Linked DNA regions of Homo sapiens. Changing the gene in region 2 together with the main gene of any one other region gives a genetic interaction. Each region holds a gene or a part of one and is shown on either strand. Other genes may lie near its edges.

What was found.
Region 1: changes in STK11 (region 2) and BRIP1 together harm fitness more than expected from each alone (negative genetic interaction), as found in Homo sapiens cells (one large-scale study listed by BioGRID).
Region 3: changes in STK11 (region 2) and SOX18 together harm fitness more than expected from each alone (negative genetic interaction), as found in Homo sapiens cells (one large-scale study listed by BioGRID).

What each region holds. Positions count from the first base shown.
Region 1 is NC_000017.11:61,800,940-61,804,588, forward strand, and holds part of BRIP1 (Fanconi anemia group J protein), read right to left. Parts: intron 536-3,649; coding exon 314-535; intron 1-313. UniProt on the Homo sapiens protein: DNA-dependent ATPase and 5'-3' DNA helicase required for the maintenance of chromosomal stability. Acts late in the Fanconi anemia pathway, after FANCD2 ubiquitination.
Region 2 is NC_000019.10:1,222,629-1,225,854, reverse strand, and holds part of STK11 (serine/threonine-protein kinase STK11), read right to left. Parts: intron 2,871-3,226; coding exon 2,683-2,870; intron 2,218-2,682; coding exon of another isoform or gene 2,111-2,217; exon of another isoform or gene 1,980-2,110; intron 1-1,979. UniProt on the Homo sapiens protein: Tumor suppressor serine/threonine-protein kinase that controls the activity of AMP-activated protein kinase (AMPK) family members, thereby playing a role in various processes such as cell metabolism, cell polarity, apoptosis and DNA damage response.
Region 3 is NC_000020.11:64,047,507-64,051,255, reverse strand, and holds SOX18 (transcription factor SOX-18), read left to right. Parts: upstream 1-1,616; 5' UTR 1,617-1,739; coding exon 1,740-2,097; intron 2,098-2,293; coding exon 2,294-3,090; 3' UTR 3,091-3,674; downstream 3,675-3,749.

The DNA.
Region 1 (3,649 bases), on a different chromosome or scaffold from region 2:
CTTCAAAACATAGTTTTTTCAGAGAAATGTTTCTAAATAATTCTTTTTGAATATTCATAAATGCAAAGAGAAATCCTGCTGTAATCCCACTTCAGTCACTATGTTCCTTAAAACTGCTTGTTATTTTGGAAATTAAAATGAGTGGGTTGATTTTAACCCATGTTAGGATATGTTTTCAGTACTCTAATATGTTTACACAAATTTATTTACATAAATTAAAGCAAAAAAAATTAAAACATCTAAAAGCTTTTACATTCAACATTTACATCTCCATGAGTAGGAAGAAGGTTCTCATTTTTACACATATACTCACACTTTCCCTTATTTGTGCATCTAGAAGATAGTTGTAGGGACAAAATATGATGTCAGCATCTTGTATTAGTTCTCGGGCTGTGTAATATGGACAGGCCTTTAGTTTCTTCCCCAGGCTGACAAGTTCTTCTATATCCCAGGCTTTGCACATCCCTTGGAAAGTCTGTAATGTGTGCTGATCACTAATTTTATGAACTCCATGATAAAAATAGCAGGATTTTCCCTAGAAACAAATATGCATAACTGAAATGTGAACCAATATTAGCATAGAAGGAATAAAATAAGCTTATCTCAGAATTTGAGGAACATCATTAAAGCCACAAGGCTAAGATTTTACTGGCTACGCCACCACACCTGGCTAATTTTTTGTCTTTTTTGAGACAATACCATAGCTACAATCACAACGAAGTCTGGTTGACTCAGACTTAGATAGAAGTCCAAATCGGAAGAGCTCCAAATACCCTAAATTAACTTGAAAAAAATTTCTTTTAAATATGTTTGTTATGCCTTTTTTTTTCTGATTAAACTGATGTTAGGCATGAAATACTTCTGAAAGGATTCACAAAACAATGGTATCACTGGTTGCTTCCAAGGATGAGAATTAAGTGACTGGGCACAGGAGTGAGAGATTTTTCTCTGTAGACCCTTTTGTACCTTTTCAACTTTGAGCCATGTGATAGTATTTCTTATTCAAATATAAATAAGAAGGAAGGAAGGTAAGTAGGTAGGTTGGAATGTCCTAAGGGGAAAAAAAGAAAGTAAGAGTATTCACTACAAAATATTCAGGAGTACCAAAAAAAGCCTAAATTATCCATAATTCTATTACACAAAGAATGCACTAGAAACATTTTGGTGTATTTCATTTCATATTTCTTCTATACATGTGTATATAAGGATATCTCTACAATGTGACCCAATATTAAAATAACAAGAACAAGCAAGGCACGATGACAGGTGTGAGCACTTTGGGAGGCTTAGGCAAAAGGACTGTTTTAGGTGAGGAGTTTGATACCAGCCTGGGCAATGTAGCAAAACCCTGTCTCTACAAAAAATAAAAAATTTTCTAGGATTGGTGGCGTACATCAATGGTCCTAGCTACTCAGGAAGCTGAGGCAGGAGGATCACTTCAGCCCAGGAGTTCGAGGATGCAGTGAGCCATGATCAAGCCACTGCACTCCGGCCTGGATGACAAAACAAAGCCCTATCTCTAAATAGTAATAAAAACAAGAACAAAGCAAATGTTCCCCAGGCATTGAGGATTATTAACAATTCAGCCACAATAAACAAAAATTTTTATAAAGCATATTCCCTTTGTTTTCTTCTGTCTAGCGTATTAAAAATCATACAAGGAAAATCTTGACATCACTAAGCATCTTTTCGTTGCTGCTCATATATGTACATTGAATTAATGTGCCATAGCTGATGAACCAGTTTTCTTATTACTGGGCTTATAGACTGTTACCAATTTCTGCTTTAGACATAAGGCTGCAGTGAGCATTCTTATGCTGGTTTCTAAATATTTTCTTAGTCTATATTTTTAGAAATGGCATTATGGGATCAGACGCTACAAGGTATTTTTAAGTTTCTTGAAAACATATAGTGAAATTATCCTCCAGAAAGTATATATTGCTTTGCATTACCCTTTTCCCACATCCTTATCAACACTGGTGTTATCTTTTGTTATCTCTATCTTAAAAGTAAAAAATAGAATCTTGTTTTGATTTGTATTTTTTATAGTTTCTAGCAAAGTTTAACATAGTGTTGTATGAATAGTCTAACAAGGTTCAATAGTAATTTGTGTTTCTTCTTTTATGTTATCTACTAATGCCCTTTGCCATTCTATTACCTTTTTTTTTTTCAGAGATGGGAGTCTCACTCTGTCACCTGGGGTGCAGTGGCACGATCCAATCTTGGTTCACTGCAACCTCCGCCTCCCAGGTTCAAGCAATTCTTGTGCCTCAGCCACCAAGTAGCTGGAACCACAAGTGCATCACCACATATGGCTCCTTTTTTGTAGAGACAGGGTTTTGTCATGTTGCTCAGGCTGGTCTTGAACTCCTGAACTCAAGCGATCCGCCTGCCTCGGCCTCCCAAAGTGCTGGGGATTACAGGCATGAGCCACTGCACTCCACCCCATTCTATCACTGGAAATAAAAAAATTTCATTACAGGCTGGGCACAGTGGCTCATGCCTATAATCCCAACATTTTGAGAGGCCAAGGCCGGAGGACTGCATGAGCCTAGGAGTTCAAGACCAGCTGGGCAGCACAGGGAGACTCAATCTCTACAAAAAAACAAAAAAAATTAAACCGCAGTGAGCAGTGACCACGCCACTGCACTCCAGCCTGGGCAACAGAGTGAGATCCTGTCTCAAAAAAAAATACTCATTATGTGCATTAATAAAAAAATAAAATGTTTGATAAAACCCAGCCCTAACAAGTGTCTCATATACTATTAAAAATGTACAAAATTAGAAAAGTATATATATTTTTAGTAGAAGTATAAAATTCTAGTAGTAGAAGTACATAGGCAATTTGTCAAAAAACTACCAAAATTTAAAATTTTACCATTAATGTGAATAGATGTACCCTGTACTGTTAAATAGCCAAAAAATTGAAAATTAACCAAATGTCTACCCATAAGGGACATGTTAAATAAATTATGGTAAATTAATACAAAAACTTTAGCCCTTAAAAATGATTTAGATTTGTCTATGTGTTGATTAGGCTCTCTATGTTAAGTGAGAAAAACATGTTGAATAACGTGTATAGAATGATTAAATTCATGTAAATTGCTTTTTTAAAGAATATGTGCACATACATTATAGCAAATACATTTTTTAAACATTCTGGTAGAATAGATATATAAAATCTTACAGTAGTTACCTTAAAGGATTAAGGAGATGGAGGATCTAGAAAAAGCCTCTCTTTTCATTTTCTAACCACATACATGTACTACTTCTCTTTTTCAATTGTCATTGGAACTAAGTGGTAGAATAATGGGCCACTTTTATTTTAATTAATTCTACTATTTATTTTAAAACGATTTTGAAATAAAAATATTTATTTTTCCTAGTTTGCTATCCTTAACAAAAAACAACCATACATAAAATATATAAATTATATCAGGGATAAAAGACTTTGAGGCAGCTATATACATATGTGTGTGTGTGTGTGTGTGTGTGTGTGTGTGTGTGTATGTGTGTGTACATACACATACATATATACATATGGGTTCAAGCACTTCTCATGCCTCAGCCTCCCAAGTAGCTGGGATTACAAGCACGCATCACCATGCCCAGCTAATTTTTTGTATTTTTAGTAGAGACAGGTTTTGCC
Region 2 (3,226 bases):
TCTCACAATGGCAGGGGAAAGTGCAGGAAGCTGCCCACGTACTGTCCCTGCGAGGAGCCGTGGTGGTTGGCGAGGACTCCGCGAACACACTGGCTGCCGAGCCATCCCCGAGGCCCCTCCCGGGCGAAGTCAGTGGGAGGCCGCCCCGGGCTGCCCCAGAGCTCATGTGCCCAGTGCAGAGCCCCAGCTCCGAGAATGGACCAGTGGCTGACTCAGCAGCTTCCAGAACTTGCCACACACCCACCCCATGTGCACAGGAAGTCACTAGCTTTAAAAAAGCACCTTGGGCCGGTCGCGGTGGCTCACGCTTGTAATCCCAGCACTTTGGGAGGCCGAGGTGGGCAGATCATGAGGTTAGGAGTTTGAGACCAGCCTGACCAACATGGTGAAACCCCCGTCTCTACTAAACATACAAAAATTAGCCGGGCATGCTGGCGCGCACTTGTAATCCCAGCTACTCAGGAGGCTGAGGCAGAATTGCTTGAATCCGGGAGGTGGAGGTTGCAGTGAGCCGAGATCGCACCACAGCACTCCAGCCTGGGCGACAGAGCAAGACTCTGTCTCCAAAAAAAAAAAAAGATAAAAAAGACCTTGGTGAGGAGGCACCAATTGCACCCATAGGTCTGAGCTTGGGCCCAGCCCGTCTCTGGTGGGGCAGACCCTGTGGACAAGGTGCCCCAGCTCTGCATCAGCGGGCACAGCCGCCACTGGGCCCTTGCCCCACCCCACACTCCTGTCTGCACTGGTGCCCAGGATCTAGCCCAAGCCCCTTCCCTGGGATCTGGGTGTTGGCAGCAGGACCCGCATCCTGGGTAGGGACACGTGAGGCCAAAGTGGAGGCACGCAGAGGCCGATGCAGCAGCCCCGGCAGAGCGCAGAGGATGGCCTGACCCGAGGGCGCCGGGCTGTCCTGCCCCAACGCAAGGGGGCTCTGCAGGTCAGGGACGGGGCTCACGCTGAAGCCTGAAGTTGAGCCTGTCCCCAGCATCTGAGCAGTGGGAGGGGCGTCCACCTGAGTACCCAGTACTGAGTACTGAGGCCTCAGCCATGCCGAGTGGTCTGGCGGCCCTTCCCCCTGCTGGGTACTCCTCCTCACCACCCACAGTGGGCTTAGCAGGGTCATGAAAAAGGTGGCCCAGCCCCTGCTCTCCTCCCAGGCACCTCACCCCAGGGCAGCCCAGGTCTCACACAGGCCTGAGGGTCCCCAGGAGGGAAGCCAGTGCCGGGTCCTGGCTCAGGGATCCTGGCCTGCAGGGGCGGCCGTGGGGGTCAGCGTGTGGTCCACGTCCCAGTAGGGACTCTCGCAACCTGCCTGGGCTGGCCCTGCCCTAACTGGCCCTCCTGCCTGGGATTTGCCTGGCTGCCCGTCTCAGGGCACCAGGGCTCTGAAAGGCAGAAGACCCTGGGCCTGGGGTCAAATTGCAGCCAGGCCCCAAGGATGGGCACCATGAGGGGCCCCCACCTCCCAGCACACCCTAGTGACCAGGGTACCCAGCAGCACCTCCCGTTCCAACAGACCAGACGCGATGGTCGTGGTGCTGCAAATCCAAGAGCCCAGGAGCTGAGACCCTGTGATCCTGGGGGCCCCACACACGCTGTACCCTCCTGGGGGGCCCCCACATGCTGCATCCTCCTGGGGGGCCCCCAGACACTGTACCCCCCGGGGACCCCCATACACTGTGCTCTCGGGGGCCCCCACACTGTACTCTCCTGGGGACCAGCTACTGAGCTGAGCCTAGGGGTTTGATGAGGGGCCCAGGAGTGCTGAGGGACCTAATGGGGGGCTCTCTGCAGGGCCCCCACTATTCTGGGACCCTCGGGCCCGGGGGTGGACCCTGTGCACTGGGTCCTCACATCCCAACCTGCCTGGCGTACCCCCCTTCTCAGGCCGGCCCCTGCCCACCACTTCCCGCTGAAACAGTAAAGCAGAAAGCCCCCTCAGGCTCCAGCCCGAGCGCAGCAAGCATCCACCCTGCAGATACACTGCAAAACTCTTTATGACACGGCCCAGCCCTGGGCCGAACACAGCCAAGCCGGGAGCATGGCGGGGAGGGGCTGGCTGCCAATGTGGGCCGCCCCTACGCTAAGGCCCTGAGCTCCTCCTCAGGCACTACTGCGGCGCCGGCCGAGAGGCTTCCTCTCCTGAAAGGTCTGAGCCCTCGCTCTTCTGCAAGCCGCGCTCCGCTCTAAGCCCTGCCTCAGACGCCTCCTCGCCACCTAGGGAAGAAGGGCGGCCGGCATCAGGGCCAGCGGGCAGGCCTCAGGGACGACGGGAGGGAGGGCCACTGGACCCTCTCTCATGCCAGCTGTCTGAGGGGCCACCCTGCACCCTGACTCTCACCTACCCTCCCCCGACCCTGGGGCTCCCCCGCCTGCTCCTGCTGGGACTCAGGCCAAGGCCGGTGGGTGGTGCCTGGCTGGGCAGCACCCGGAGAGACGCCTGAGGAACCCTCCTGGCCAGACAGGCCTGGGCTGGTGCCCCCGCTGACCCCACACCTTTCAGCCATGTCCCAGCGGCCCGCAGGGCGGAGGCAGCCTGCAGGTGGGCTGGAGGCTTTGGGGACGTGGGATTGGCCACCAGAGGGCAGAAGCTGTCCTTGTTGCAGACAGGCAGGCACCCTGCTCCCGTGGGACATCCTGGCCGAGTCAGCAGAGCCGGGCAGGGGCCCCCGCCAGACTCACCGGGCACCGTGAAGTCCTGAGTGTAGATGATGTCATCCTCGATGTCGAAGAGGTCCTCGTCCTCGTCCGCGCCGTGCAGGTCCTCCAAGTACGGCACCACAGTCATGCTGCGCCACCGGTCCTTGGTGTCTGGGCTCGGTGGGATGGGCACTGGTGCTTCAGCCGGAGGATGTTTCTTCCGGAACCAGCTGCAAACGCCCAGAAGCAGTGGCGCCTGTCAGGCTGGCACCAGGGCGGTCCAGTTTTCCGACCCAGCTCCTCTGGGCCCAGGGTACCTGCCACACACTCAGGAGCTGGGACCAGGCCGTGCAAGGGGTGGCTGTGACCACAGAAGCTCAGCCATGTCCTCTAGGAGCAGGCAGGCTGACCTGACTCCAAGCCTGACAGATGTCCCCTCCACCCTGAGGCCTGTGTCCCAGGTGGCACTCAGAAGCCAGCACCCACCAGATGGATGCTGGCTGCAAAGCCAGCAAAGGCCAGAAGGGGGTCTGGGGGGCCCTGAGCACATCCCAGCCCAGGAGGCTATCGGGGGGCAGCCCCAGTC
Region 3 (3,749 bases), on a different chromosome or scaffold from region 2:
AGGAGGACTAGCAGCATCCGGCAGAGGCCTGTGAGCCCCTCCATCCCTGTGGCCACAACCCTGCCTGCCTCCCCAGAAAAGCCAGGGGCCGCACCTCCTGGTGCCCCACGGGCCCCCCATTAGCCAGCACTGGCTCAGTGTCTGTGAACGAGGTGCTAGGCCCGTGGGGCAAACTGGAGGGACGGGAGATCTGGAGACCAGACTGGGAGACCCAGCCCCGTATGCTGGGACGATGGGCGTCGAGACAGACTGTGATGTGGGGCTTTGGGGAGGGCTGGACACCGACCGCGACAGCCCTCGGTGGGAGTGCCCCTGTGGGGGTGCTGGCCTCAGGGCAGGAGTGCCCCTGGGGACAGTTCAGGAACAGCCTCTAAGGGGCACTGCAAGGCCCACGTGGGGCCCACCCCATTCATAACACAGGCTGGATGTGGCCTAGCGAGGCTGGCAGGGACAGAGAACCAAGAGCTTCTGGCCACACAGGCTCAGGGTCACAAGACCTGTGGCCTCTACCCATGGGGCTCCCGGCATAGTGTGGCGGGGGGAGCTGGGGAGCCTCCAGGCTATGAGGAGATGTGCCGCGAGGTGGCGAGATTCTGACCCTGCCTGGAGGGCTGCTGGGGACACCCAACCCTTCTCCAGTAGAACCATGCGTGGCAGTGGGAGGGGAGGACCTCCAGAGGGAGACCCTCAGCTCTGGAGCCCAGATCCCCTCCTGATGGAGTAGGAAGGGGACAGTGAAAATTCAGGAAGCTGGACGCTCCTCCGGAACCCGCCCCCGCCCAGGTCAGAGGGTCCAGGGAGGGGCCAGTGGGAAGGACCCAGGTAGGCCCTGCCTCTTGCTGCAGCGGTGGCCTGGGCTGGGCAGGGGAGCCAGCAAGCCACTGAGGGTCCCAGCCCCTTCCCCAAGGGCCCTTGGGGGGCAGGGAGGACGCCACAGCCTCTGCGTCCCTGCTCCCCCTTCTCTTTGTGGGCTCCGTCCAGGGCCTCTGCTCTCTCCCTCCCTGTGTCAGCTTTGCCTTGTGCCAGAGTTGGTTTGGGAGTGAGGACAGAAGACCATCTTGTCCCATAAAGGCACTCAAAGTCCCTGGTGCTGACGGTTACACATGGGTGTAGAGTTTCCAGCATGGGCGCCCCTGGGGACTCAGAGCGCCTCCCCAAAGACGGGGCCTTTTCTGAAGGCGCTGCACTCCAGGAAGGACTTACCGGCTGTTGGGAAGGCAGCCTCCCCAGAACTTGGTGTGAAAAAGGGCCCTCTCCTCCCCATGGAGCCTCCCAGCGGGGGGCGGGGAACGGCAACCAGCGGGACACTGCCGCCCTCCCCCAGTTACTGCCCGGGGGTCCGACTCCGTGGGTGGGTGGCAGCTCGCCTCCGAAAGTCTGGCAGCACCGGCCCTCATCAGCAGCCCTTTCTTTCCCACCCGGGGGGTCTCTCCTTCTGAGAGGTCGCGGGGGAGGTGGGGGGGCTGTGCGCGGGGGAGGCCTCAGCGGAATCCCGCCCGGCCTGAGAAGAAAGGGAGCCCCCGGGGAGGAGGCGGCCCCGACCCGCCCCCGCCCGCCCGCCCCGCCGCCGATTGGCCCTGAGCCGCTATATCTGGGCGCCCGCCCGGCCCGAGGCCACCGCCGTCCCCACCGCCATCCGCCCTCCCGGCCTGGCCTGCCCTTGCGCCCGGCTCCCCAGTGCCCGCCGCCCGCCCGCCGCGCTCCCGCGCTCCGTTCCGCCCAGGCCGCGCCCAGCTGGAATGCAGAGATCGCCGCCCGGCTACGGCGCACAGGACGACCCGCCCGCCCGCCGCGACTGTGCATGGGCCCCGGGACACGGGGCCGCCGCTGACACGCGCGGCCTCGCCGCCGGCCCCGCCGCCCTCGCCGCGCCCGCCGCGCCCGCCTCGCCGCCCAGCCCGCAGCGCAGTCCCCCGCGCAGCCCCGAGCCGGGGCGCTATGGCCTCAGCCCGGCCGGCCGCGGGGAACGCCAGGCGGCAGACGAGTCGCGCATCCGGCGGCCCATGAACGCCTTCATGGTGTGGGCAAAGGACGAGCGCAAGCGGCTGGCTCAGCAGAACCCGGACCTGCACAACGCGGTGCTCAGCAAGATGCTGGGTGAGCGGCGGGAGGGCGGCAGAGAAGGGGGAGAGGGCGGGGGGGGCTCGGGCCGGGGTGGGGCGGGGGGGGCAGGGGTCCCGGGCCGCGGGGTGCGGGGGCTGCGCCAAACCCTCGCGGGGCGTCCCGGGCGCACGGAGGGCTCGGCGCCCACCCGCCCGACGGCGTTCCACTCACTGGCGCCCACGGCCCGCAGGCAAAGCGTGGAAGGAGCTGAACGCGGCGGAGAAGCGGCCCTTCGTGGAGGAAGCCGAACGGCTGCGCGTGCAGCACTTGCGCGACCACCCCAACTACAAGTACCGGCCGCGCCGCAAGAAGCAGGCGCGCAAGGCCCGGCGGCTGGAGCCCGGCCTCCTGCTCCCGGGATTAGCGCCCCCGCAGCCACCGCCCGAGCCTTTCCCCGCGGCGTCTGGCTCGGCTCGCGCCTTCCGCGAGCTGCCCCCGCTGGGCGCCGAGTTCGACGGCCTGGGGCTGCCCACGCCCGAGCGCTCGCCTCTGGACGGCCTGGAGCCCGGCGAGGCTGCCTTCTTCCCACCGCCCGCGGCGCCCGAGGACTGCGCGCTGCGGCCCTTCCGCGCGCCCTACGCGCCCACCGAGTTGTCGCGGGACCCCGGCGGTTGCTACGGGGCTCCCCTGGCGGAGGCGCTCAGGACCGCGCCCCCCGCGGCGCCGCTCGCTGGCCTGTACTACGGCACCCTGGGCACGCCCGGCCCGTACCCCGGCCCGCTGTCGCCGCCGCCCGAGGCCCCGCCGCTGGAGAGCGCCGAGCCGCTGGGGCCCGCCGCCGATCTGTGGGCCGACGTGGACCTCACCGAGTTCGACCAGTACCTCAACTGCAGCCGGACTCGGCCCGACGCCCCCGGGCTCCCGTACCACGTGGCACTGGCCAAACTGGGCCCGCGCGCCATGTCCTGCCCAGAGGAGAGCAGCCTGATCTCCGCGCTGTCGGACGCCAGCAGCGCGGTCTATTACAGCGCGTGCATCTCCGGCTAGGCCGCCGGCGCCGCCCGGGTCCCTGCAGCGCTTCCTCCCGCAGCCCCCGCGACCGATCCGACCGCGTCGCTGCCGCTCTGCTCTCTCATACGCGTGTATGTTTGGTTCCATGTCACAGCCCCCTAGGAGCCAGTGATGCTCGGCCTTGCGCCCGTTCCACCTCCCAGGCCACCCTTCCTGGGCTTCTGGGCCACCTGCCCTCGGGGGGCCCCTGCGAGGGTGCCTGGAGTTCCCACGTGTCCCGGGGCTTTTCCAGGAAGCCCGAGCCCAGGACCTGTTGGCAGAGTTGCCAGGGTTACATTTTTGAAGCACCTGCTCCTTTTCTTGCAGTGTATTTTCTACAACCAGATTGTATTAATATTTTTTACTTTGCCCTTTTAAAAAATATACCTAATACAATATATTTAATTTTTAATTAAACTCTTAAACTTTTCTTCCAAGAAGTTTCAGTGATCAGAAGCGTCACTGTGGCAAAGACTTTTGCAATGTGAGGAATACAGATGTTTGCTTTCTATAAAGGAGGAGCCTGGAGCTGGGTCCCCGGACGGAGAGGCCACAATAAATCCTCGGGCCTTTCCTCTGCACACTGACATCTGTGGTGTTTGCAGGGAGGGAAAAGCAGTTCCCCAAATAGCCCTGGACGCCCCTTCCCTCCGAAT